Linked DNA regions of Homo sapiens: regions 1, 2 and 4 are each reported to be linked to region 3. Evidence: microRNA targets listed by miRTarBase, many of them from high-throughput screens and not tested one by one. Region 3 holds a microRNA gene; each other region holds the end of a gene's coding sequence.
Evidence for each region. The annotated mature microRNA hsa-miR-548at-3p reads CAAAACCGCAGUAACUUUUGU and lies in region 3 at 2,021-2,041, shown strand. An mRNA with a match to its seed (bases 2 to 7 or 8) in the 3' UTR can be bound and repressed. Matches are read on the target gene's strand: a 7mer-m8 pairs with bases 2 to 8, a 7mer-A1 pairs with bases 2 to 7 and ends in A, and an 8mer does both.

Region 1: the mRNA of CHD4 is a reported target of hsa-miR-548at-3p. Seed matches in the 3' UTR shown: 7mer-A1 at 697-703.
Region 2: miRTarBase lists GLRX2 as a target of hsa-miR-548at-3p. The part of its 3' UTR that is shown has no 7-base or 8-base seed match.
Region 4: miRTarBase lists SMU1 as a target of hsa-miR-548at-3p. Seed matches in the 3' UTR shown: 7mer-m8 at 7,368-7,374.

What each region holds. Positions count from the first base shown.
Region 1 is chr12:6,564,901-6,571,029 of GRCh38, reverse strand. CHD4 (chromodomain helicase DNA binding protein 4) reads left to right here. Exons shown (of 40, transcript NM_001273.5): 39 at 1-161; 40 at 337-948. The coding sequence ends at 354. It overlaps NOP2 (NOP2 nucleolar protein), which reads left to right and starts at 2,739. Exons shown (of 16, transcript NM_001258308.2): 1 at 2,739-2,823; 2 at 3,108-3,214; 3 at 4,208-4,253; 4 at 4,413-4,501; 5 at 4,694-4,929. The coding sequence starts at 3,112. It overlaps CHD4-AS1 (CHD4 antisense RNA 1), which reads right to left and starts at 2,659. Exons shown (of 3, transcript NR_199067.1): 1 at 1,500-2,659. RefSeq lists enhancers at 433-727, 2,395-2,444, 2,268-2,889.
Region 2 is chr1:193,090,886-193,099,358 of GRCh38, forward strand. GLRX2 (glutaredoxin 2) reads right to left here. Exons shown (of 4, transcript NM_197962.3): 3 at 6,699-6,875; 4 at 5,585-5,874. The coding sequence ends at 5,740. RO60 (Ro60, Y RNA binding protein) reads left to right here. Exons shown (of 9, transcript NM_001173524.2): 9 at 1-334. Among named protein-coding and RNA genes, the nearest start is that of GLRX2, 10 kb to the right of the region's middle.
Region 3 is chr17:42,492,790-42,497,789 of GRCh38, forward strand. MIR548AT (microRNA 548at) reads left to right here and starts at 1,984; the gene lies at 1,984-2,041. It overlaps ATP6V0A1 (ATPase H+ transporting V0 subunit a1), which reads left to right. Exons shown (of 22, transcript NM_001130021.3): 12 at 1,545-1,684; 13 at 2,245-2,399; 14 at 2,837-2,927.
Region 4 is chr9:33,041,067-33,049,539 of GRCh38, reverse strand. It overlaps SMU1 (SMU1 DNA replication regulator and spliceosomal factor), which reads left to right. Exons shown (of 12, transcript NM_018225.3): 11 at 1,282-1,434; 12 at 2,149-7,775. The coding sequence ends at 2,247. Among named protein-coding and RNA genes, the nearest start is that of DNAJA1, 20 kb to the right of the region's middle. RefSeq lists a silencer at 4,882-5,201 and an enhancer at 5,056-5,557.

The sequences.
Region 1 (6,129 bases), not on the chromosome of region 3:
TGAAACAGCTGGAAGAACTGCTGAGTGACATGAAAGCTGATGTGACTCGACTCCCAGCTACCATTGCCCGAATTCCCCCAGTTGCTGTGAGGTTACAGATGTCAGAGCGTAACATTCTCAGCCGCCTGGCAAACCGGGCACCCGAACCTACCCCACAGCAGGTAGGACCATTTTCTTCTTGACACCACCTCTTCCTGCAGAACCATTCTGGAGCTTGTAACTTTGCTGTATGTCCCTAGCTTTACATACTGGGTGGGTGGCCTATCAGTGAATTCCCTTGAGATTGGGTGGATTCCTATCATCTGGAATTCTGACTCCTCGGGTCTCCTTCTCTAGGTAGCCCAGCAGCAGTGAAGATGCAGACTGATACCACCTCCACCGCTGAGCAGTGACCTTCCTCACTTTCTCTTGTCCCAGCTTCTCCCCTGGGGGCCTGAGAGACCCTCACCTTCCTTCTGCCCATCTTCCATGTTGTAAAGGAACAGCCCCAGTGCACTGGGGGAGGGGAGGGAGTGAGGGGCAGTGGTGCCCTTCCTGCAGAAGAGACATGCAGCAGTAGCGCTGGCGCCATCTGCAGGAGCTGGCGGGCTGGCCTTCTGGACCCTGGCTTCTCCCCACTGTAACGCCTGTTACACACAAACTGTTGTGGGTTCCTGCCAGGCTTGAAGAAAATGATCTGAATTTTTTCCTCCTTTTGGTTTTATTTTGTTGGTTTATTTTGTGTTTTCTTTTCTCCTTTTTGGGGGGTATTCAGAGTGGGCTGGGCCCCTGGGCGAGACACAGCTACCTCTGTTGGCATCTTTTTAATACCAGGAACCCAGCGGCTCTAGCCACTGAGCGGCTAAATGAAATAAAGTGGAAAAAAAAAAAAAGGAAAAAACCAAAAGCATAAAAAACCACAGCAAATTTCTTGATGAAAATTGAAAATAAAAGTTTCCTTGTATTTTAGTGCTCTGGTTCAGTGTGGGTGTAGGTGCAGGTGGATGAGTGTGTGCGGCAGGAGCCTGGCACCTGTATAGTTGAAAATTAAGGGCTACGTGGTGTCCTGATACCCCACTGAGTAACTGGGTTCTGTGTGTGGGTGCAGTATGTGCCTTGCCAACGTTGACTTCCACCTGTGGAAAATGAGAGGCTGCAAAACTGCGGGCACCGCCGCTTAATGGCTCTGTGACCTTGAGCAAGTTGTTTAACTTTGGTGGGATGCAGATATCTCATGTATACCTCATACGGTTGTCAAGTTAAACCAGTGAAGTACATGGAACGGTTTTAACACCTAACCACTACCTTAATGTTAGTTTCTAGGAAGGCTGAGGGGGGTTTTCTTGCTAAGTTGTGCAAAATTGGGATGCAATTTGTGGAAGAACACAGCCTCAATCCCACACCCCCGGAGGCCCGACCTAACGTCCTCCAACCTTGAAACCCTTGTAGTTCACCCCTTCTCATGTCCCAGACCAGGTCAGCCTTGCAACCCGTTGTTTCCCAACTAATTGTAGACCCACCTGAAAGCGAGTTCCGGCGAAGAGGCCCCCTGCGAATGAGGTGCAGTGCAGCACCTTAATTGAGGGGCTGAGCAGGGGTCAGCATCAAGGAAGGTGCTGGGAGGGCGGGGCACGGTGGCTCACAGCCTGTAATCTCAGCACAAAGGTGGGGGCAGGAGGATCGCTTAAGCCCAGGAGTTCTAGACCAGCCCTGGCAATATAGTGAGACGCCACCCCCTACAACCCGTCTCTATAAAAAGATTTTTAAAAAAGGGGCAAAGAGGAGGAGGTAAGTGGCATGGAATTCCACGGTTTTTTTTGTTTGTTTGTTTTGAGATGGAGTCTCGCTTTGTTGCCAGGCTGGAGTACAGTGGCGCGATCTCAGCTCACTGCAACCTCCCCCTCCCGGGTTCAAGCGATTCTCCTGCCTCAGCCTCCCGAGTAGCTGGGACTACACGCGTGCGCCAGCCACCATGCCCAACTAATTTTTGTATTTTTAATAGAGACAAGGTTGGCCAAGATGGTCTCGGATTTCTTGACCTCGTGATCCGCCCGCCTCGACCTCCCAAAGTGCTGGGATTACAGGCGTGAGCCACCGAGCCCGGCTGGTTTTTTTGTTTTTTTTTTTTGAGGTGGAGTTTCGCTCTTGGTGAGGCTTAAGTGGCACGATCTCGGCTTACTGCAACCTCCGCCTCCCGGGCTCAAGCAATTCTGCCTCAGCCTCTCGAGTAGCTGGGATTATAGGCGCCCGCCACCACGCCCGGCTAATTTTGTATTTTTAGTAGAAGCAGGGTTTCACCATATTGGCCAGGCTGGTCTCGAACTCCTGACCTCAAGTGATCCACCCACCTCAGCCTCCCAAAGTGCTGGGATTACAGGCGTGAGCCACTGCGCCCAGCCTGGAATTCCGTGATCTTGACGCTGGACTAGGGCAGTGGATGCGAGGGAGAGGGCTCCAATGTCGGGCCCTGGTTCGAGGAGAAGGTGCGGCTTTCACCCAACAGAAACCGGCCGTGAGGCTAAAAGCCAACTCCATGAGGGAAGGTCGGTCAAGCTCAATGGTTTCGTCACATTGCTCCCTCCACCCGCCGCGGGTGTAAGCTGCGCGTCTCCTTCGAATTGCCCCCTACTCGCCGCCGCCGGCTCCGCTGGCGTTCCCAGGGCGAGCGTAAGTTCCGGGTGCGGCGGCCGACTAGGCGCAACAGGAAGAGGCGGGGCCGCGAGGCTAGCGCTACCCGTGCGCCTGCGTGGAACGATTCTGTGGCGAGTGCCGGCCGAAAGCTAGGTCCGGATTGCACGTGGAGGGCCGCCCGAAGGGCACTCTCGGACATTAACCCGCATTCTGGTGGGTCTAGAGGAAATTGGGGGACGAAGAGTGGCAGCACTGACCTGGTCTGGGACGTGGGGAGAAGGGTGCGCTACCTGGGTTTCAGGTGGGAGGGCGTTCGGTCGGGCCTCCAGGGGGATAGCGGGGGTGCTTGAGTCGCGGGTGCTGAGTCGGGAGTGCTGAGTGAGTTGCGGGTGCTGAGTTGAGGCTGTGCCCTTTCCCACTATAATACGCCAAGCGTGCGTTCTGCCGTTCCCTCCGACACGCGCGACGCCACCTTCTCCCATTTCTGCCTGCCACAGTACCATGGGGCGCAAGTTGGACCCTACGAAGGAGAAGCGGGGGCCAGGCCGAAAGGCCCGGAAGCAGAAGGGTGCCGAGACAGAACTCGTCAGATTCTTGCCTGCAGGTAAGGATTAGTTGTGGCCTCCTGATCCCTCAGCTTTTGCAGTATTCTGTATTATAACCTCTTCTCTTTTTTAGTTTCTGTTCATTTTATATTTAAGTGGAATCTTCTCTGTATGAGTTACTAGGAGGTATGAATGAAACAGCCGTTTAGATTGTAGGGAACTGTTTAGGTCGTAGAGATGTGAAGACACGGACACAACTATTATTCATGCAAGGGAAAAGTGTGATTTAAAACAATTGTGAGTTCAGAGGAAGGGGGAGCCCATGCAGAACTGTAAAAGTTTTTGTTAAGCTGGGTTTTGAAAAATGGGTAACATTGTAGCAAGAGGAAGTAGTGAAGGGGAGGGGTCAGTCACTGATTTGCCTTTTGGAAGGGGTGGAAATGGAAAAGCACGGATCTGGCTGCTTCATGCCGAGTAGTAGTATACTGTGTGGAAGACTGGTGGGAGGTAACACTGGACCGGGAGTTTGTGTTGGGCATTGGATAAAGGATGCAGTTTATTGAGATAGTAGGAAGTCCTGGGCACTGTATTAAACTTGTTGGTCATGTTATATCGCTTAATCATCTTAGAGTCCTGTGAGAGAGGCACTATTAAGGAAACACTTTGGGAGGCCGAGGCAGGTGGATCACCTGAGGTCCAGTGTTCGAGACCAGCCTGGCCAACATGGTGAAACCCTGTCTTTACTAAAAATACAACAATTAGCTGGGTGTGGTGATGGGAGGCTGAGGCAATAGAATCGCTTGAATCTGGGAGAAGGAGGTTGCAGTGAGTTGAGATCACGCCATTGCACTCCAGCCTGGAAGACAAGAGTGAAACTCCATTTCAAAAAAAAAAAAGAAACTTGTATACAGTTATTAAATAATAACAGGGCTGAGATTTAAATGGACTCCTTTTAATTAGTGTACTAATTCTCTTACCATGTTTATTTCCGTTCCCATTTATTTTTAATGTCCCCTGTAACTTGTTCTGCCTCGTTTTTCTTTTTTAAACAGTAAGTGACGAAAATTCCAAGAGGCTGTCTAGTCGTGCTCGAAAGAGGTAAGTGTGGGTGTCAAAACTTAAGTAGGTTAAATTGGTACTGCTCATCTTTGACCACAGAGTTAATTCTAGACTCTCACATTTCCCTATGGTGGAAATGGCAGAGCCTGGAAGTATCTTCCCATTTCTTCACTCCTTGAATCTCTTGTGTCTTTTCAGGGCAGCCAAGAGGAGATTGGGCTCTGTTGAAGCCCCTAAGACAAATAAGTCTCCTGAGGCCAAACCATTGCCTGGAAAGCTACCAAAAGGTCCGTGAAACTAAGAGCTGGATGCTACATGAGGAGTCCCTTTGGGTCCTGGGTAGGGAAGAACTCGCTAAACATTTCCGGAGTGAAAGGAACAGCCAAAGGACATTCTGAGGGGTAGAAAGTACAGGCTCCCAGGGTGTGGGGCCAGGGAATGTGTGGCTGCCATTAGTCCAGGACTCTTCAAACCCTTAGGGATCTCTGCAGGAGCTGTCCAGACAGCTGGTAAGAAGGGACCCCAGTCCCTATTTAATGCTCCTCGAGGCAAGAAGCGCCCAGCACCTGGCAGTGATGAGGAAGAGGAGGAGGAAGACTCTGAAGAAGATGGTATGGTGAACCACGGGGACCTCTGGGGCTCCGAGGACGATGCTGATACGGTAGATGACTATGGAGCTGACTCCAACTCTGAGGATGAGGAGGAAGGTGAAGCGGTGAGATTCATCTTTTTGGGCATTCATAGAAGGATCCTTGCTATTTAGTTTCTTTCCCAGATTCTTGAGACTGTTTCTTAGTGGCAAGGATAAGCCTGACTAGAGGAAAGGGGTTTTTGTGCTCCATCACTGTTTCCCTACTGCCTTATATCCTCCCAGTGCACTACAAGTTTGAAAGAGCTGTAGGATAGAGCATTTAAAAAAATCTAGAAGGCTGTCTTGGTGTAGGTATGGGAAGGTGGACAATGGTGTGCTCCACTGATGGGCACAGAAATGCACTTTTTATAAAGCAGTTATCTCAGAACTTTGAAAAATTTGTTCCTTTTGGCTGGGTATGGTGCCTCACATCTGTAATCCCAGCACTTTGGGAGGCTGAGGCAGGAGGATTGCTTGAGCCCAGGAATTGGAGACCAGCTTGGGCAACATAGGGAGATCCCGTATCTACAAAAAATTAAAAAATTGGCCTGGCACAGTGGCTCATGCCTATAATCCTAGCACTTTGGGAGGCCAAGGTGGGCGGATCACCTGAGCTCCGGAGTTCGAGACCAGCCTGGACAATATGGCGAAACCCCATCCCTACTAAAAATATGAAAATTAGCTGGTGTGGTGGTATATGCCTGTAATCCCAGCTACCTGGGAGGCTGAGGCAGGAAAATTGCTTGAACCTGTGAGGCGGAGATGGCAGTGAGCCGAGATCATGCCATTGCACTCCAGCCTGGGCAACAAAGTGAGACTCTGTCTCAAAAAAAAAAAAAGTTAAGTTAAAAAATGGTTTAAAAATTAGCTGGGTGTGGTGGCGTACGCCTGTAGTCCCAGCTTCTCAGGATGCTGAAGCGGGAAGATGACTGGAGCTTGGGAGGTTGAGGCTGCAGTGAGCTGTGATCTTACCACTGCACTCCAGCTTGGGTGACAGAGTGAGACTGTCTCAAAAAAAAAAAAAAAAAATAACTGCTTCCTTTTGACATAGTAATTCCCTATTAAGGAAGATGATCCAAAATGTCAGCAAATAGTTCTTTACTGAGGTGCAGGAAGTTATTATACAATTAGTGTGTGGATGTATTATTAGAATCGTATAGAATAAAAAGAGAAGGTCCCCATGTGCACCCCCTTCCTACATCCCCTTGTATCTACAGGGTCATTATTAGGTTTGCAGGCACCATGTGGATCATAATGCCAAAAACTCAGGAAACTTCCAAAATA
Region 2 (8,473 bases), not on the chromosome of region 3:
TTACATAGTGAATGGAAATTTAAGTATTACATTTTAAAACCTGATTGTACATTGGTAATTTAAACATCCAATAACAGGAAAATCTAGATACAGTGATGTGTTATACATACATGACTGTTAACATCAGTAATATTTTATGATAGTTTAAGGTTTTTTATTGTTTTCTATAACAAGTTATCCAACAGGTTGGACTTTGTAACATGATATCCAAGGACCAAGTTGCATATTTAACATCGAATGAAAATGTAGTTGTACAGTTCCAAAAATAATTAATTTTTTAAGGGAATTTTTCAAGACAAAAGGCAAATATTTTGTTTCAAACCTACAAGCAAATTCATTCCAAGAAGTGAATATAGTAGTAAAACATAAAGACTATTGCAATAAAAAGTTTCCAGGCCAGTGACTTGTTTAATTACATTCACATTTTTACATTCACTTTGCCTTTCAAAGCAGGAGTATTTTATAAAACTGAAATAAAACTTTAAATTGTCAAGCTGGTGCTTAAAGTTATGTAAAATCTGATTTAAGTTTATTTCATTTCCAAGGAAAGGACCCTGAAAGGAGGGGACAGGGAGCTTCCTAGGTCTGTTGATAAACTAACTGATGCTTTGTCAAGTCTTCCAAGTTTTCACTGTAAATAATACAACTAACAATGTAATTTTGCTGTTTTCTAATAGAGAATGAATGAATATATTAATGTATTACATTTGTTTCATGATAAAACAGTTTTCACTGATACTGTGAAATCCTTTCTCTCCTTTCTAGCCTTGCAAAATACCCTACTAAATAAATCATTTTAGACATGGAGTGCAGGTGGACACTGTGTGAACTGTTTTTGGTCAGTTATTGTAGAAATTGATAGATGTACCAAATAAACTCTATGCACATTAAACAAGTGTCTGTCTATCTCTTTCAAGAAATACGAATGTTAAGGTTATAATATGCCTTAAAAAATCTAAAGCCTTTAGTAATCTTGTATTTGAACAAGGTAAAATTTAAGTTTTGATAATTAATATTGACCTTTTAATGTATCTAGTTTTATGTAAGTATTAAAAGTATATGAAGTTAAAGATTCTTTACCCATGGAATTCAATTATAACAAAATGATTAGATTTAATGAAAACAAATTATTTAAAGTTTTAAAATAGGATTCTTTTGTGAAAAGATCTACTCAAAATTGCCTTTGGCAAAAGTTATCATCCAAACACAAAAAGTCAACTATGCAAATAAAAACACTGTTTCAGTGCCAATTTGCAGACATTTTTCTCTCAATTCCCATAAAAATTTTCTGAAAAGTTCTAAGATCTGAACTGTGGGTAACTGAAAGCAAGTTACATCAGAATATATTCACCAAAACTTCAAAACATTTGGTTGATTTTACAGCACTCATTTCAACACTTGTACAAGAAGGATCACAAATTATACATACTAGATTTAATAAATTTTAACAATATTAAACCTTATGAAGAAAACCTGACTTTAAAAGATGTTGTTCAAATGGTAATTTTTTATCAGTAAACAGTAAAATCCAGGTACAGAAGATCCCTTTTTTTCTTCAACAGCTTTTCAATTACAGATATTTTGGCAATTAAAATGTAAATTGATTATCTAATGATAAAGTGAAAAATGGCCTAGTTTTTTATATTAATGAACTCCAGTAAACAGCTCGTATTTCAGATCTTAAAATAAAGGGCCGGGCATTGTGGCTTACACCTGTAATCATAGCACTTCAGGAGGCCAAAGGAGGAGGACTGCTTGAGCCTAGGAGTTCAAAACTAAAAAGTTGTAACTATGGGGATCTTGCTGGGCAACACAGTAAGACCCCCATATTTACAAAAAACTAAAAAGAATTAGTTGAGCATGGTGGCATGTGCCTGTAGCCCTAGCTATTCAGAAGGCTACGGTAGGAGGATCACTTCAGCCCAGGAGTTTGAGGCTGCAGTGAGCCATGATAGAGCCACTGTTCTCCATCCTGGGCTACAGAGGGAGACCCTGTCTCAAAAAAAAAAAAAAAAATGTAAATAAAAAATGTAAAAATAAGGACTGAGGAAAAAAATTACAAGTTTTTCTTAGTCACCATTATCTTACTTTTATCCAGCTGTAAGGTATGGAAAGGGAGAAGAAATGGAAATCAATATCCAAGACAACACGAAACCCCAGAGGCTTCCCCTGCCCCCTAAATTCTTGGCTGGGTACAGGCAGGAATCTTGGAAAACCCTGATGGGTCCACAAGAAAACACACATACCTGAACCATTGTGATTAATGATAGCCATTATGTATTGTCTATTAAAAACCACTCTGAAAGATTTACATGTATTATCTCCATTCCTCAAAAAGTAAATCCTAAAGGAAAGTACTATTACCTACATTTTATAAGAAACTTGAAGTTCTGGGAGGTTAAGTCACCTACCTAATGGTTACACCTTTAGTGATCTGAACGCTTGTCTGTCTTGGCAAATCATCAGCTATGCTCTGAAAGTATATTACGAATTTTTTTAACTGAAGATTTAGTGGTGGTATGCTGTGGTCTCCTATCTAAATCTTTCTCCCTTAACCCCCAGCTTTGTAACCAGCCCCTTGCATACAGTTAAAACTAAAGCTGTTGGCATTCCACGATTGGCACTGTCAGTAAGGGAGCTGCTGGCTTCAGTGCTTCCCTATATCCTTGGATTCTGCTCCTGGTTTTGTTTTCCTCTTGGAGAGTCCCTATACTTTTTAAAACCTGCTTAGCCTTGCATTTTTAAAAATTTATTATTGTGTCCGATATTTTAAACGTTTTAGAGCGGCAAGCTTTTGTTATTATTGTTTTGGGGTTTTTTTCAAAGATATTTAATGTGCCATATGACAAAAAGAGGTCAGATTTATTGTTATTTTCTTTCATTCCTTAGCGTTTAACAAATAGGAGAGATCTGCTTCCTTTTTGATGCAGTGCTAAACCCTCCAAAGTAAAAATCTTTTATTAGTCAATGAGTTTAATTCAGAAGACTAAGATGCAGATATTAGAAGGGTTTATTTCTTCTATTTTAAATAAAGCCATAGTGAGAATCAGGTATCATATTACCTTCAGTAGAGTTTTTGAGGCTTTTGATAAGGCTTCTCTCCCTAATGTTGAATTCTTTCAAGATCTGAACATAATCAAGAACGAACCACCACTCGCCTCTCACCCTATGTCCTACCAGTCTAGGAAGCATTGATAAAAGATGTTTCTTCACAGGCCAGGTGCAGTGGCTCATGCCTGTAATCCTAGCACTTTGGGAGGCCAAGGCAGGCGGATCGCCTGAGCTCAGGAGTTTGAGACCAGCCTGGCCAACGTGGCGAAATCCTGGCTGTACTAAAAATACAAAAAATTAGCGAAGTGTGGTGGTGCTCGCCTGTAGTCCCAGCTACTCTCAGGAGGCTGAGGATTGAGAATCGCTTGTACCCAGGAAGTGGAAGTTGCAGTGAGCTGAGATTGCGCCATTGCCCCCCAGTCTGAGCAACGGAGCGAGACTGTTTCAAAAAAAAAATGCTAAAGGTAAAGATGTTTTTCACAGTCGAGTACTGGTCAGTGTTTCTATACCTTGAAGTAACTTGTCTCTACCCTTAATACCTAGTATGATGAACAATTATGACACAATTTTACCTTTCTCAGGTAATAGACTTCAACTCTAACAAAATGTGTTTTCAGAATCCCCAAAAGCCTGAATCTAACAACGATTTTACAACATAGCAAGAACTTTCTTATGACATAATGCAAAATAAAGAACTAAAGACATTCTACTCTTTGTTCCATTCTAGTGTTATAACCTAAATTATCACATGGGAATGAAATTCTTGTCTAAATTCTTGATCAAGAGGTTTCCTAATGGCAGTTTAAATCCAAGTAAGAAGCATCATTGATGGCAAAAGGCCAAGGAAGCCACCAGCTATTTTCTTCAGGACTGTTCCAGATTCTCTGGTCCATCCTGACAAAAACCAGAAGCACTCTTGAAATCCATTTTTCCTCCACCTCTGATGAAGGGTTTTTTCTTCTCAGCATCTGGTAATCTGCCCCAAGTGACTCTGTGGGATCAACTAGGAAAATGCTTTGTATAGTAGGCACTTTAAAAATTCTTGTTGATAGGAAGCTGGAAAGACGATTTCATTAATGAAGTACTGAACGTCTTCAATCATTGTAAAGTAAGACTTCCTATAGGATAAATCTTGTTTGCTAAGTTTAGCTGAATTGAAATCAGTTTGAATAGTATTCCCAGTATTGAACACATTAAGTGTTCAAAGGCTCTTGGAAATTGAGTTAAATTGTGAGGTGGAGAGTTCTGCTTTCCAGAATTTATATATATATATGTATTACAATACACATAAGGCCGGGCACGGTGGCTCATGCCTGTAATCCCAGCACTTTGGGAAGCCGAGGCAGGTGGATCATGAGGTCAGGAGTTTGAGACCAGTCTGGCCAAGATGGTGAAACCCCGTCTCTACTAAAAAATACAAAAATTAGCCAGGTGCGGTGGCGGGCACATGTGATCCCAGCTACTCAGGATGCTGAGGCAGGAGAATTGCTTGAACGCGGGAGGCGGAGTTTGCAGTGAGCCGAGATCGCGCCACTGCACTCTAGCCTGGGCGACAAAGCAAGACTCTGTCTCAAAATAAATAAATAAATAAAATACACATAAATTCTGGAAAGCAGAACTCTCCACCTCACAATCTAATTCAAGTACATTTAATATATAAAATGTGTATGTGTGTGTATATATATATGAAATGTACTCAAGTTAAATTGTGAGGTGGAGAGTTCTACTTTCCAAAAATATATATATAAAAAACCTCAAAATTTATATATATATATATATATAAAACCTCAAACTCCTGGGCTCAAGAGATCCTCCTGCCTCAGCCTCCTGAGTAGCTAGGACTCCAGGCATGTGCCATCACACCAGGCTAATTTTTGTTTATTTGTTGTAAATATGGGGGTCTTGCTATGTAGACCAAGCTGATCTCCAACACCTGAGCTCAGGTGATCCTTGCGCCTTGGCCTCTCTAAGTGCTAGAATCACAGGCGTGAGCCACCATCCCATGCCAACTAAAGTACATTTCTACACTGTTTCAAAAGTTCATCCTCATACAATGCCGAAATCTTCTCCTTTTAATTTCTGCCCATAGGTATAGTTTTAATGACAAATGAACTATTAAGTCATTAATGACTTAATGAACTATTAAGTCATTAAATGAGTAATTTAGTTTCTCTAAGATAAATTTCATTCCATGCTAAAAATTTAATATACTTCTATTACTCTACAAGTACAAAGTGTGAAGGCTTTTCACAATATCGTATAAGATATTCCTGCCTAGTTCACAAGTGTATCAGCAAAAGCCTTAAATTTTAAAGAGAAATCAAATATCAGTCCTTACCACTTAAAAACTATGTGAGATAAAGAGTTAACTCCTGAATAGGAAATAAAGAATTCCAAATGCTTACCTTCTAGCTCTTGGTTGTAAAATTCATATCTAAATTCCTAATAAAATACATTCTTATCTTGATACAACTCCAACCTTTCATTTTTTTAATACCATCCCTTTTTCTCAAGAATTGGCAAGTGGGAAGAAGAGGTTTCCACCGCAATTTATTGTTCATTATTTTTACATCTTCTTCGTGAAGACAATGCATGTATTTAAAACATCCTCAAACATTTAAAAGACATTATCGGGCATTACCACTTTAAATAACTGACACTGTACTAGCAAACTTATTAGTATAAACATCACTGAAATTCTTTCCTCTTACTTTTTTTTAAATAACACTGATGAACTAGTGGGAGCAATTTTCCTTCTTTGTGAAGCCTATGAGTGTCAGTTGCACCTCCAATAAAAGTACCATTGACAAATATTCTTGGAACCTGTTGGACAAACAAAAGAAGAATTAGGCTTTACTCTAGTATCAGAACTAAGATCATTTCACATAATAACGAGACATTTGAACTCTGGGTACTTTTATGAGCCTGGCACCACAAAGCTCTTTCACAAATTAAATCTTAAAATCTTTACCCTTTAAGGTAGGTATTATTTTTAGCCCTGTTTTGGAGGAAAATGAGGCACAGGAACTTGCACAAAATCACAATGATGGTACATGACAGACTGGGATTCAAATCCAAACAATCTGATTCTAAAACCTTTCTTCCTGATTACTAAAGCTTTAAATAAACTAAAGCAGATAAACAGTAATATTTAGTTATTTCTTACATTTGTTTACTGAAGGGAAAGAGTGCACTATAAACTTTCAATAAACTTGAAAGTGGCAACACTGTACATTTTTCTGATTATGCATATTATGGAAAAATCCAAATTTCAAGAATCTAAAAACATGGAGCACTAAAGCACTCCTATTAGAAAAGTAATTGAAGACCAACCCCTGTATTGCCCAGGTAAAGGGAGGAAGAATACTTTCATCTTGCCAAGAGCTCCAAGAGGAACTCAAAGATCCATAGACAAGCACTCATAATAACACTACTCATCAACCCCAGTCAAAACACACACACAGAATAAAAATAAAATAAATCAACTCTGCTGTTTCCTATTCTAAGAATCTGGTTCCTAGATCTGCAGCTGCTTTATCTATCCTCAGAGAATGTCTGGCTCATTTTCCTAACACAAGGTTCTAGGCTCTGGGTGATCTAGTTTACAACCTATTAAAGAGGAACAGCACCACAGAGGATATACTCACAGTTCTTTCACCAGTCATTTTGTAAAGAGCATCTTGGAACTGGTTTCCATATTCAAGCAGGTCCAGTTCCACCACTTTATAGTTAACATTCATGTCATGGAAAAGCTTTTTTGCCATTGTACAGTAAGAACAGGATGTTTTTGAGAAAATCACCACACAATTATCAGAAATTGTTTCCTGAAATAAAACCACAAAAAATCATTTTAATTCTAGACATTACCATTTGGAAATAAATTAAGATATAATGGAAAGGGTATGGATTTTGGTCTCTCATGATTCTGGGCTCAAACTAAGCATCATCTATTTTTTCTCATCTGCAGATTGAGGATATTTTTCATTTCAAAGCAATGTTATTAGAAAAAAGATATAACAAAAAGTGCCTGGCATAGAGCAATAACAATAAATAATAATTGTAGCCAATTCATATACAGCAACCATTTCTGTGTGCCAGGTACTATTCTCAACAATTTATCTTCACTGTGTTATTTAAACCTCACTACAATCCTGAGGTAGGTCCTATTATTGTCCCCACTTCACAGTTGAGGAAAGTGAGGTGCAGAGGAAGATCAACAATTTGTTCATGGTTCTCAGCTAATAGGTGGAAGAGCTGGGATTAGACCCAGGCAAATCTGGCTCTACAGTCCAGATATTTAATCTCCATTATACTCCTTTTTCAGCCGGGTACAGTGGCTCATACCTGTAATCCCAGCACTGTGGGAGGCTGAAGCAGGCAGATCACTTGAGGTAAGGAGTTCGAGACCAGCCTGGCCAAAATGGTGAAACTCCATCTCTACTAAAAACACAAAAGTTGCCAGGCATGGTGGCACATCCCTGTAATCCCAGCTACTCAGAAGGCTGAGGCAGGAGAATCACTTGAACCAGGGAGGTGGTTCCAGTGATTCTCCAGCCTGAGGAACACAGTAAGTGGACTCTGTCTCAAAACAAACAAACAAACAAACAAAAAAACCAAAACATTGTACATTTCTTTTTTTTGAGACAAAGTCTCACTGTGTCCCCCAGGCTGGAGTGCAGTGGTGGGATCTCAGCAACCTGCGCCTCCCAGGTTCAAGCGATTCTCATGCCTCAGCCTCCCGAGTAGTTAGGATTATAGGCACCTGCCACCACGGCCAGTTAATTTTTGTTTTTTAGTAGAGACGGGGTTTCACCATGTTGGCCAGGCTCGTCTCAAACTCCTGACCTCAGGTGATCCACCCGCCTCAGCCTCCCAAAGTGCTGGGATTACAGGTGTGAGCCACCGCGCCCAGCCCCAAAACATTATACTTCTTTTCAAATATTCAGTAGGTATTCAGGAGTTAACTCCTTACCTTCTATTCTATAACTTTCAATGGTAAGGAATGGTATATGATTTCTTCTTAAAATGTAAGGCTTACCCCTCTACTTCTATCCTTTCCTATATACCTTTATAGTACAAAAGCTGTCATTACTCTCTTGATAAGGTATTCTCATACTCTTAATTCAGGAAAAGCTACTTCCAGAAATGCTGATTCAATGAGTTTGAGGTAGAAGTTGAAAACTGTATGTTTAAAAAACCTCTCCATATAATGATGATATCAGCCTGGTTTGAAAACTACCTTCCAGGCCTTTACCACAATGGCTATGAGATTCTGCTATGCATCCACGCAGCCTATGAAGTTTTTCTTTTTGTTTTTTGTTTCTAAACATATGAATGCCTGGGACCTTCAAAAGATTTTGAATGGATAGATTTAGCACCCAGACATTTGTCTAGGTTTTTTTTTGTTTTGTTTTGTTTTTGT
Region 3 (5,000 bases):
AGGATCACTTAAGGTCAGGAGTTCGAGACCAGCCTGGCCAACATGGTGAAACCCTATCTCTACTAAAAATACAAGAAAATTAGCCAGGCCTGGTGGTGCATGCCTGTAATCCCAGCTACTCAGGAGGCCTAGACAGGAGAATTGCTTGAACCCAAGAGACAGAAGTTATAGTGAGCCTAAATTGTGCCACTGCACTCCAGCCTGAGTGACAGAGCAAGACTCTGTCTCAAAAAAAAAGTTCATGAGACTGGATTCTTTCATGTGCCCTCACAGCCCTAAAACACCTGGACTTCTCTAGCAAATCATTTGCAGGAACTGTTTTAAGCAAAATGTTTCTTCTAAGATGTCTGATATTTTTAAATGGCTTTTTTTTTGGCTTCCCTGTTCCAAGGTTAGACAGAAAAAATGTAGCAAGTATTGGCCACTTTAGGTACAACACAGATTTCTCCTATATTTGGAGAGTTAATTATTAAATCAAGAGTGTGAGTATTCATTTTCAGTTGGAGCCCTATGGAAGAACTGCTTTGCTCTGGGCTCTCTCCATCTGTACGTTATCTGATATTTAGCTTTATATCACTGGGACATGGTTGCTGCACAAAGAGAAGACAGCTGGCCTGCCCTGGGAGCAGGGTCCCACGAGTTACAAGAGAGTCAGAGAACAAACCAATGTTGTCAAGGTTACACCTTCATTTCCACTGTTCTTTGTTTGAAATGTTATCAGAGCTGCCAGGCACAGTGCCTCATGCCTGTAATCTCGGATATTCAGGAGGCTGAGGTGGGAGGATTGCTCAAGGCCACAAGTTCAGGACTAGCTTGGGCAAAATAGTGAGATTCCATCTAAAAAAATATTATTTATCAGTAATTTTAAAACAAAATTAACTGGGCATGGTGGCACATACTTGTAGTTCCAACTGTTTGGGAGGCTGAGGTGGGAGGATAACTTGAGTCCAGGGGTTGCAGGCTGCAGTGAGCTGTGATGAAACCACTGCACTCCAGCCTGGGTGGCAGAGAAAGACCCCATCTCTCTTTTAAAAAAAGTTATCAGTAGCTCAAATTTCATTAGCTACTTTGTGAAGATGTGTTGATTCTGCCATGAAAGATTTTCTCTGAGAGTCCTATCTGTCTGGCAGCTGGGGAGTAAGTCACCTTATATTGATCTTAAGATTATGGAAGCCTGGGCACGGTGGCTCACGCCTGTAATGCCAGCACTTTGGGAGGCCGAGGCAGGTGGATCACTTGAGGTCAGAGTCGGAGACCAGCCTGGGCAACATGGTGAAACCCTGTCTCTACTAAAAATACAAAACTTAGCTAGGCATGGTGGTGGGCACCTGTAATCCCAGCTACTCAAGAGGCTGAGGCAGGAGAATCACTTGAACCTGGGAGATGGAGGTTGCAGTGAGCCAAGATTGAGACATTGCTGGCTGACAGAGCAAGACTCCATCTCAAAAAAAAAAAGGGGGGTGGGTATGGAAAAGAATGTAATATTTGTGGAATTGCTATGGTTTAATGTACTTTGTATTTTTCTTTTTTTGGTTTCTTCATAGCTCCGTATACTATTATCACGTTCCCTTTTCTATTTGCTGTGATGTTTGGAGACTTCGGTCATGGCATTTTAATGACCCTTTTTGCTGTGTGGATGGTACTGAGGGAGAGCCGGATCCTTTCCCAGAAGAATGAGAATGAGGTAATGTTTAAGTTACATCTGCATTGAACTGAAATTTTATAATTTCCCAAGCATTCATTATGAAAATTATGATCTGGAAGTCTTTTATCCATGAATTTATCAAAAGGAAGTAGAGAAGTTATGTTCATTTTAACACCAAAGACGACATGTGCAAGCTGGAAGTGGTAGTGTGTGCCTGTAGTCCCAGCTACTTGGAGGCTGAGGCAGGAGAATCACTTGAGCCCAGGAATTCGAGACCAGCATAGGCAACATAGTGAGACCCCATCTCTAAAAAAATAAAAATTATTTAGGTTTGGTGCAAAAGTTATTGCGGTTTTGGCTGCCAAAAGAAATGGCCAAAACCGCAGTAACTTTTGTGCCAACCTAATAAAAAAATAGAGGCCACATCCTGTGAAAGTGACTGTCTCATTAGCATTGTATTTTGGTTTTTACTTCAAGCTCTCTGAATCAGGATGGGGTAAAGTAGTGCTGGAGAAAGGGGCAGGTATATTCTGAATAACATTGTCACAATGTGAGCTGCAGTGAGTACATTCTCATTACTTCTTTCTTCTGGTTCCCAGATGTTTAGCACTGTGTTCAGTGGTCGATACATTATTTTATTGATGGGTGTGTTCTCCATGTACACTGGCCTCATCTACAATGATTGCTTTTCCAAGTCTCTTAATATCTTTGGGTCATCCTGGAGTGTACGGCCGATGTTTACTTATAATTGGACGTAAGTTGCAGAAGAAGCTAAAATTCAAAGCTTATTCCTTTCATGTGCAGCCCTGATTTTTAAGACAAGTGGTAAACTGACACTTCTTTAGGAAGTGGTGACAGTGTCTCCTCATTCATGCTCCACACTGTGAGTTGCTTTGTGATTTGTTCAGCAAGTATCCAGGAACTAAGATTAGAAATGATTTTTTTTTTTTTTGGAAACTAAAACCAGATTCCCCAGTTCCCTACTTGATTGTGTGTTTGTGTGTTTAATTTTTCTTTTTGTCATTTTGGATCCCTCAGTCTCAGCTGCTAGTCTCTCCTCTTTATTTTTCCCCTCCCATTTTATTGAAGAGACAAGATAGCTACAGTAATTTATTTTGGGGTCAGTTTCTGGACCCTTGTTGTTTCCCTCTCTTGTTCAAAAATAATGTGACTTTTTCCCTGTCATGGTAGTGAAGAGACGCTTCGGGGGAACCCTGTTCTACAGCTGAACCCAGCCCTCCCTGGAGTGTTTGGTGGACCATACCCTTTTGGCATTGATCCAGTAAGAGGACTTCCTTCCTATATGCTAACCTCAAATTTTTTAACACTAACCCTGAAGCAAGAGAATTAAAATGAAGATAAATAGTTATGTGGGCTTTCACTGGGCATGGTCGCTCATGCCTGTAATCCCAGCACTTTGGGAGGCCGAGGAGGTGGGATCACCTGAGGTCAGCATGGTGAAACCCTATCTCTACTAAAAATAAAATATTAGCCGGGCGTGGTGGCGCATGCCTGTAGTCCCAGCTACCCGGGAGACTGAGGCAGGAGAATCGCTTGAACCTGGGAGGCAGAGGTTGCAGTGAGCAAGCTGCACTCCAGCCTGTGTGACAGAGCAAGACTCCGTCTCAAAAAAAAAAAAAAAAAAAAGAAAGAAAGAAAGAAACAAACAAAAATAGTTATGTGGGTTTTCGTTGACATATTTTTGGGAAACCTTGATGTATGTATTCAGAGGACTTCTAAGCCATAAGAGACCCAAGTGCCTTGAGGAGCCACATACTTTTCCCTGCGCTGCTTATTTCTGAGGTGGTTAATAATATCGACTCTGGGAAGATTGATTTTTCAAGACTCCTTCCCATTTCTTAATTTATTTCTGCTTACTTAGTTTGGTTTTTTATTTTTAGCAGACATTTTAGCAAAGCAGAAATATATTTTTCCTGTGGATTTTAGACTTGCATTCTTATATTTACGAACTTACAAAAACTTATCCGAGAATTAATTTTTTTTTCAAATGCTTAGGCAAATTAAGTATGATCAAGTCTTCTTTATTGTGTGCTGTAAAAATGGAGTGGCGGCAAGAATGTAATACAGGGCATCTGACTGCTGAGGAAAAAAAAAAATAATACAGGCTGGGCGAGGTGGCTCATGCCTGTAATCCCAGCACTTTGGGACACAGAGTCAGGTGGATCACTTGAGGTCAGGAGTTCGAGACCAGCCTGGTCAACATGGTGAAACCCCATCTCTACTAAAAATACAGAAATTAGCTGGGCACGGTGGCATATGCCTGTAGTCCCAGCTACAGGAGGCTGTGGAAGAATTGCTTGCGCCCGGGAGGAGGAGGTTGCAGTGAGCCCAGATCGTGCCACTGCACTCCAGCCTGGGGGACATAGCAAGACTCCATCTCAAAAAAATAGATGGAATGACAGCACCACAGGGCTACAATCAGCGAAACATAGACTGTGGGAAAATATATAAGATAAACAACCCAATTTCTTCAAAAGAAATTTTGTAATGAATGAAAAAGGAAAGATGGAAGGAGAACCTGTAGTTTAGAGACTCAAGAGATATATCTACAATCATAATGTATAAGCCAGGCACGGTGGCTCACGCCTGTAATCCCAGCACTTTGGGAGGCCGAGGCAGACAGATGACTTGCGGTCAGGAAATTCCAGACCAGCCAGGGCAACATAGTGAAACCCCATCTCTACCAGAAGTATAAAAATTGGCCGGGTGTGGTGGTGCACGCCTGTAGTCCTAAGGCAGGAGGCTAAGGCAGGAGAACAGCTTGAACCTGGGAGGCAGAGGTTGCAGTGAGCCAAGATCACGTAACTGCACTCCGGCCTGGGTGACAGAGTGAAGACCCTGTCTCAAAAAAAAAAAAAAAAAAAAATGGTTTGGACACAGATCAGAGAAATTTGAATATTGACTATATATTTTATGATATTAAAGAATCATTGTTAGCTGGGCACGGTGGCTCACACCTGTAATCCCAGCACTTTGGGAGGCCGAGGCTGGTGGATCACGAGGTCAGGAGTTCAAGACCTGCCTGGCCAAGATGGTGAAATCCCATCTCTACTAAAAATACAAAAAAAATTAGCCAGGCGTGGTGGCGAGCACCTGTAATTCCAGCTACTCGGGAAGTTGAGGCAGAGAATTGCTTGAACCCAGGAGGCAGAGGTTGTAGCGAGCCGAGATCATGCCACTGCACTCCAGCCTGGGCGACAGAGTAAGACTCCATCTAAAAGAAAAAAAAAAAAAAGAAATCATTGTTAATGCATTTACGTGTGATGACAATATTGTGGTCATGTTTTAAAAATAAGTCCTGGCCGGGCGCGGTGGCTCACGCCTGTAATCCCAG
Region 4 (8,473 bases), not on the chromosome of region 3:
TCAAACTCAAGATCATCTAGATTTTCTTTTTTGTTATCCTCTAAGAGTTTTAAATACAGTTTTGAGTTTTACATTTAGGTCTGTGATCCATTTTGAGTTAATTTTTGTGAAGACTGTAAGGTCTTTATTTTATTGTGTCTAGATACATTTTCTTGCATGTAAGTGTCGAATTATGGCATCTCTTGTTGAAAACACTATCTTTTCTCTATTATATTGCTTTTGCTACTTTGTCAAAAATCAGTTGAGTGTATTTCTGGGCTTTGTATCCTGTTCCATTGATCCAATACCACACTGTCTTCATTACTGTAGATTAGTAGTAAATCTTGAAGTTGGGTATTGTGAGCCCTCCAACTTTGTCCTTCTCTTTCAACATTGAGTTCGCTATTCTGGGTCTTTTGCCTCTTTGCGTAAGCTTTAGAATTGGGTTGTCAATATCCACAAAATAATTTGCTGGGATTTTGATTGGGATTGTATGAAATCTGTAGATTAAGTTGGGAAGAACTGACATCTTTACCATATTGAGTCTTCCTGTTCATGAACATAGAATATCTCTGTGTAGTTCTTTGATATCCTTCATCAGAATTTTGTAATTTTCCTCATTTAAATATTGTATGTATTTTGTTAGATTTATACCTAAGTATTTTCACTTTGGGGCTGCTAATGTAAATGGTATCATGTTTTAAATTTCAGGTTAATCCCAAGCCCTAACCCTTGGCAACCACTGATCTGTTTTCCATTATTATAATTTTGTCATTTTGAAAATGGTATAGAAATGGAAGCATATAGTATGTAAACTGTTCGCCTTTTCAGATTGGTTTCTCTCAGCTTGGTTTATGATGATTTTAATGTATCAATAGAGCAAGCAAAGTCTTAGAGACTGAGTGTCATCCTGTATGGGGAAAGCTTCTCATTCTGTTAGAGGAAACTGGAGAGCAGACATCCAGAAAGCTTTGAGAAATACTGGTATATTGATTTAGAAAATTGTTTTTTGTATGGCAATGAAATTTGCTTAAGGGTAATATGTCTCTTTAGGGCATGATTGGTGACGTGGGATGTATGAATTCTAAATTTTTGTCTGCCACTTAGTTTAGATTACTTATCTATTGAATATTTCCCAGGCAAGGGGAGTTAGCACATGATGAACAGGACTGGAGATCTAATTACAAATGATAGTAAACCAAAGTGCAAAATAACAACGTAAAAATGTCAGTTTAAAATGCTGCACATGGTTGAGCTGCTACTAATCCTGATGTTTTTTTCTTGGGGTGTGGTGTGATCTAGATTGTCAGAAGCTTCAGTTCTGGTAAAAGAGAAGGTGGGGACTTTGTTTGCTGTGCCCTCTCTCCCCGTGGTGAATGGATCTACTGTGTAGGGGAGGACTTTGTGCTCTACTGTTTCAGTACAGTCACTGGCAAACTGGAGAGAACTTTGACAGTGAGTATTACTTACTAAGTTCATCTAAAGAAATATGGTAGGACTTGTGTCTTTCTGAACTCTGAAGTATGTGCCTTTTCCAGAGCTATCGATGTGACCCTCAGTATAAAATATGTTGTTTTAAAACATTTAGCTCCATGTCAAATTCAAGAAGTAAAATTAATGTCAGCTGCTATGATGATCCCCAAATCTCGGTGGCTTAACACTATATAAGTTTGTTTATTTTTATTTTATTTTATTTTATTTTGAGAGGGAGTCTCACTCTGTCACCCAGGCTGGAGTGCAGTGGTGTGATCTCGGCTCACTACAACCTCTGCCTCCTGGTTTCAAGTGATTCTCCTGCCTCAGCCTCCCAAGTAACTGGGACTACAGGCACATGCCACCACTCCTGGCTAATTTTTTGTATCTTTAGTGGAGACGGGGTTTCACCCTGTTGGCCAGGCTGGTCTTGAACTCCTGACCTCAAGTGATCCACCCGCCTCTGCCTCCCAAAGTACTGGGATTGCAGACATGAGCCACTGCGCCCAGCCTAAAGTTTATTATTATGTCACAATGTGATGTGAGTTGGAAAACCCTCCTCCATCTTTCTCCTATGCCATTTGGAATATGTGGCCTCCCAAGATCTCTTTTTCCCTTCCACCCACCTCTGGAAGCCTCATCAGAGTGATTTATTGCAGATCTGTACATCCTAACCCTGTGCTTTACATGTTCCAGGTGCACGAGAAGGATGTGATTGGTATTGCACATCACCCTCATCAGAACCTGATTGCTACCTACAGTGAAGATGGACTCCTAAAGCTCTGGAAACCATAATTCAACTTTTCTTTTTAAATCAGCTCGAAAGCATGTACTTAAATGAAGCATATTCATGTAATGTGCTTTTTTTTTTTTTTGCCAGCTTTTCTAAGCAAATAGATTGTCTGAATTAGTCACAGAATAATTTTGTGAAAATTCATGTTTAAGTAGCAACTACCCTTTCTTTTTTTATATATTTTTAAGGTATTAGTTTATCTTCTTCTAACTGGTGCAGTCACTTAATGTTTTCATTAATCTTCGACCTGGAGAGTGAAATACTGATATTTCTAGAAAAAAATTCTACTCCTCTGATTATTTGAAATGCTGAGGAAAATGTCCCTCCCATAGTAAAACTTGTAAATAAGGAACTATATCATATTCAGTAGCTGTGTTCTGTTCCATCTTTTTTTTTTTTTTTGAGATGGAGTTTTGCTTGTTGCCCAGGCTGGAGTGCAGCGGCACGATCTTGGTTCACTGCAACCTCCGCCTCCCAGGTTCAAGCGATTCTCTTGCCTCAGCCTCCCGAGTAGCTGGGGACTACAGGTGTGCGACACCATGCCTGGCTAATTTTTTTGTATTTTTAGTAGAGATGGGGTTTCACCATGTTGGCCAGGCTGGTCTCAAACTCCTGACCTCAAAGGATCCACCCGCCTTGGCCTCCCAAAGTGCTGGGATCACAGGCGTGAGCCACCATGCCCGGCCCATCTTTTTTTTTTTTTTTTTTTTTAAAGATGTTAATAAACTTTATACCTTTCTGGAGACTTTGTTCTAAAATGTACATAAATGCTCATCTAGTTAACATATTTACTTAGAATGTGGGAGGAGGAGTCACATTATTATCCCTGAATCTCAAGTACAGCAGAAGTGAATTCCTGGGATAGTAGGATAGACTAACATGTAAAAAGGCCAGGTGATGCATAGGTTCTCATTTCACTGCCCTCAGCCTTCCTCTCCTTCTGAGCTGTGCCTTCTCACATGTTCAGTCAACTCCAGGGAATATTGTCTCCATCTTCTGGATAGAACTAGTTGCAGGATCCGTTACAAGAATTCAGAGTTTTGGCATCTCCCCTTTGTATGTTGTAGGAGAAGGTTTGGCATTGAAAATGTGCTGTTGTTCCAAAGAAAAATTAGCAAAGGACTTGAGATTTAGAAAAGTCTCCTTTGTAATGTGCATCATTACCAGTTATCTAAAGAAAAACATGTAAAAGCCAACAAAACCCTTGAAAATATTTTGCATATGGATGTCTGTTTCACGTTTCAACTGAAGATGTATAGAGCACCTCTGATGATGAGGAAGATACCATGCTAGGCAGTACTTTCAAGAACGTGAGTTCTTATTTCTGCAGGCCTTTTGTGCCCCCTTTTAAATGTTAGCATTTATTAGGTACAAACTAGTGGGGAAGGTTTTTTTAAAAAGTTTTGCAGTCTTGTAATTTACCTTTTTAAAAAATTTATTTTATTTTTCTGAGATGGAGTCTTGCTCTGTTGCCCAGGCTGGAGTGCAGTGGTGCCATCTCAGCTAACTGCAACTTCCACTTCCCAGGTTCAAGCGATTCTCCTGCCTTAGCCTCCCAAGTAGCTGGGACTACAGGCGCATGCCAGCATGCCTGGCTAATTTTTGTATTTTTAGTAGAGCGGGGGTTTTGCCATGTTGGCCAGGCTGGTCTTGAACTCCTGACCTCAGGTGATCCGCCTGCCCTGGCCTCCCAAAGTGCTGGGATTACAGGCATGAGCCACTGCGCCCAGCCTTGTAATTTACCTTTGATGGTGACCTGAAATGCAGTATGATCCTATATGTGGCACGTAGTAATGTTCAGTGTTTGCTGAATTAATTCTGGGCAGCACTAAGAAATCCCTCTTTCCCAGTCATATTCTATAACACATTTCCCATTTGCCACAAAACCTGCAGCTTTTTGGTCCAGGTAATGACATTTGCTGCCATTTTGATGATTTAAAAATGGTCGTGGGAGTTGAACATAGTCATGAATTCAGGATTCCTGAGCATGTAGACAGTCATCCCAGTGGAAAGACACGTTCACTTAAGAGAAGTTTAAGTTAGAGGAAACAGTTTATGCTAAAAAAATTTTTAGAAAAGTCCTTGAGAATTTTTGATTTAGTCTTGACCTCATGAAGCTGGTAGTTATGATGTGCATAGTTTGTATCACCGTTTATGAAGATGGAGAATCTAGTCAGCACGTGTTGGTTTATTCTAGGAATTTTTAGGGAACACTTCTGTTGCTGGCACCAGGTGATGAATATGGTTAAAAAAAGACTCGTTTCTGCCTAAACATAGGGAAGAAGAGCAAATTAAAAGGAGTAATTAAAACTGATAAAAGCTCAAGTTACCTTTGTGATGATGAGGCGGGCAGTTAACGCGAAAGGGTTGGGAAAGGCTTCCTGGAGGGACTAGGGGGCGGTCTAAGCACAGGGAACCTAACCGGGGACTCCAGTGTGGCACAGCGGCAAGGTATGTGCTGGGCAAAATGATAGGTGTCTTGGGAGACCAGGCAAAGAGAGCTGGATTAGGAGCCGTTAAGTATATATTTTTCTTCTTTTTAAATAAAATAATGCACTGGGTGAACATGTAAACGCTAAGTTGAAAATCTGCCTTTCCCAGGTAACCCTTGTTAATCTTTCTACAACTTCATTTCGTACAAACCTGAAAAACACACTGATTTTGTCTTTAAATGGGCACACGCTGCTTACACTCCTCGGCGCCTAGCCTTTCTGAAGCCCCACGCGGCCGTCCCTCCAGCATTGAAGGCTGGGGCAGCCCAGCTCCCCTCCAGCGCCCTTACAGCCAGACCGCGGCGGGGTCGGGCCGCGCACGCGCAGGGCGGACGGCCGGATCTGGGGCGCCGCTGCTCCGGGTGGTCGGAGGTAGGAGTCCCATCTTGGGTCCAGGGCCGGTAGAGCCCCTTACCGGGGGTAGGGAGACTGCGCACCCGCTAGAGCCAACTGTCAGGGCCTGCAGACGTCGGGTGACGTCACTGTTACAAAATTGGCGGTCACATCGTCTTAAGGGCCGGTGGCAGCGGCTGCGCGAACGGGAGTTGGCTGCCGGGAATCAGTGCTCACTTCCTTCTGAATTGGGCGTGTGCAGTCGGTTCCTAGGGAAGTGCTCTGCTGCAGCCACCAGATTTAACGGATGCTGCTCTCTAGCACTTAACATAGAAGCTAAACTACCTGGCGTTAAAATTAATTCCATGAGCATAAGGACATTTGTCCTATCCCCTATTCTGCTGTTGAATTAATGACTGGAAAACATTGCGCGGAGGTATTTGGGAGTAGTATGGCTTTTTTTTTTTTTTTTTTTTTAACAGCAAATGGTATAAATCTCAGGTACAATTCAGTATCTTCTTCACCAGTTGTTTTTTTTCAGCATGTATTATTACTACCACTAACGGCCTCTGTTGAGCCCTTCCTTGCTATGTAAGCAGCCATATTTAATTCTCAGAACAATGTAATGAGGGTGCGCAAATGCACATGAAGAAACAGGTTTCCAGACGTGAGGCACCTAACTCAGTCCAACTTGCACGAAGCTCGCATTGAAAACCAGATGTGACTCCGAAGCTAGGTTTTTTTTCTCTCTTGCCTCACTCTCAATATTGCTGTCAGTTCCTCCTCAATCTTTAGGTTTGGGCAGGGACAAAGAATACATGGATTGTTCCTCCACATGCTGCAAACACATTCACCTAAGCAGAGCACAGGTAGTGAGATGAGTAGAGAGAACTGAATTAGAGGATTCTGGATGTCAGTCTTTGCTGTCACTTCTTTTGGCTTGTGCTAGAACAGTGGTTCTTACAAGTGTCACGTGATAGACACATTCTAAGGTCCTATCCCAGACCTACAGAATCAGAAATTGGTGGTGGGGCCCAGCAAGCGTGCTCAAATTTGAGAGCAGGTAGACTACAGGGTAGTTTCCGCATATACAAAAGGTGTTTTAATTCTTGCTGTCAGTCTCAGAAGTTTCATGCTGAGATAACCAAATTTAAATGATAAAGGTGCAAGACTGACTCTTAAAATCACATTTTTTCAAATTGCCATAGCTTGCTAGTGTTCTCATTCACTGTGCTTTTACAGCTTCATTTTCCACTATTTTAAGAGAAGAAATTGCTATGAAGTGTATGTCCAAGTGAGGAAGTTCCCTGGTCTGAGGTTGTTTAAAACTTACAATAGGCCGGGCACGGTGGCTCAAGCCTGTAATCCCAGCACTTTGGGAGGCCGAGGTGGGTGGATCACGAGGTCAGGAGTTCAAGACCACCCTGGCCAACATGGTGACACCCTGTCTCTACTAAGGATACAAAATTAGCCGGGCATGGTGGCACACGCCTGTAGTCCCAGCTACCTAGGAGGCTGAGGCAGGAGAATAGCTGGAACCCGGGAGGCAGAGGTTGCAGTGAGCTGAGACTGTGCCACTGCACTCCAGCCTGGGTGACAGAGCAAGACTTGGTCTCAAAAACAAAAAACAAAAAAACCAAACTTGGAATAGCAAGGGCTGCCCATTATTTAACCTTCCACGGCAATTTTAACAGTGGTATTCTGTTCCAAGTGGTTAATATTAAATCCATGTGTCAGTGTTGGTGGCTTTCAACCTTGGCTGCGCATAATCATTTTGATGCTTAGGCTACACCCAGCCGAGTTATACAGAATCCCTGGAGGGTGGGACCTGATGAGTGTTTTAATGTTTCCCGGGTAATTCCAATGGTAGCCAAGGTTAAGAACCAGTACCGTACGTACAAAAAAGTTGAGAAGCTAATTTCACGTACAGAAAATTTGCCACTGTTCCAAGAGCACTCTCAAGCGACATAATTGGCCTCTACTCCTATTCCCTACAAGTATGAATGGGCAGGAGAAGCATCACAGAGAAAGCAGAGTTAGTGCTGGAACTTGTATTTTTGTGGATGATGACCTTGGTTAATGTTTTTTCATAGGCTCTGTTTCATAGGCTTTGTTTTTTCATAGGCTCTCCCTCATTACATTGTTCTGAGAATTAAATATGGCTGCTTACATAGTAATGAAGGGTTCAACAGAGGCTGTTAGTGGTAGTAATAATACAAGCTGAAAAACTACACAGACAAACCTATCAGTTTCTGCCTCTTCAGGATATAACTATTAGGTTAGTGCAAAAGTAATTGCGGTTTTTGCCATTAAAAGTAATGGCACATTACTTTTGCACCAACCGACCTAATATGACTTTCTTTTAGTGTTCTTAGGATTTTTAATTGTAAAACATGTAACAAATTTTCCTAAACAATTGTGCAATTCAGTGGCATTATTTACGATGTTACGCAACCACTATTGTATTTCCAAAATGTCATCACCCTAAACAGAAGCCCTGTAACATTGTCAATTAACTTCTCCTTCCCTTCCCCTCAGCCTTTGGTACTGTTTCTGCCTCAATGCATTTGTCTAAGTTTAGTTCATATAAGTGAAATTATACAATACTTGTCCTTTTTTATCTGGCTTATTTCATTTAGCATGTTTTAAAGGTTCATCCATGTATCAAACAGTAAAGTGCTTCATATTTGGGGGAAGTATAAAAAGTATTCCTTTTAATGGCTGTGTATTTCACAGTGTATGTACACATGTATATTGAGAATTGAGAGATTTGTAGGTACACATTAACCATTTGTTGGTGGACAGTCAGGTTTCCACTTTGGGCTGTTGAGAATGCACAGTAAACACTGACCATACGAGTTTTTTTTTTTTTTTTTTTTTTTTGAGACAGTCTCCCTCTTGTCGCCCAGGCTGGAGTACAATGATACAATCTTGGTTCGCTGCAACCTCCACCTCCTGGGTTCAAGCGTTTCTCCTGCCTCAGCCTCCCAAGTAGCTGGGATTATAGGCGCCCACCACCACACCCGGCTAATTTTTGTCTTTTTAGTGGAGACGGGGTTTCACCACGTTGGCCAGGCTGGTCTTCAACTCCTGACCTTAGGTGATCAGCCCGCCTAGGCTGCCCAAAGTGCTGAGATTAGAGGTATGAGCCACCGCGCCCGGCCTTCATTCGTTTTTAATTCCTTTTGTATAGTCATCCCTCAGTATCCATGGGGGTACTGGTTCCAGGACTTTCCATGGATACCAGAATCCGAGGGTACTCAAGTCCCTGATATAAAACAAGATGGTTATTTGCATATAACCTACACATCCTGCGTAATTTAGCCATCTAGCTCTAGGTTACTGGTAATACCTAATACAATGTAAGTACTATGTAAACAGCTGTTATACTTTTAACAGCTGA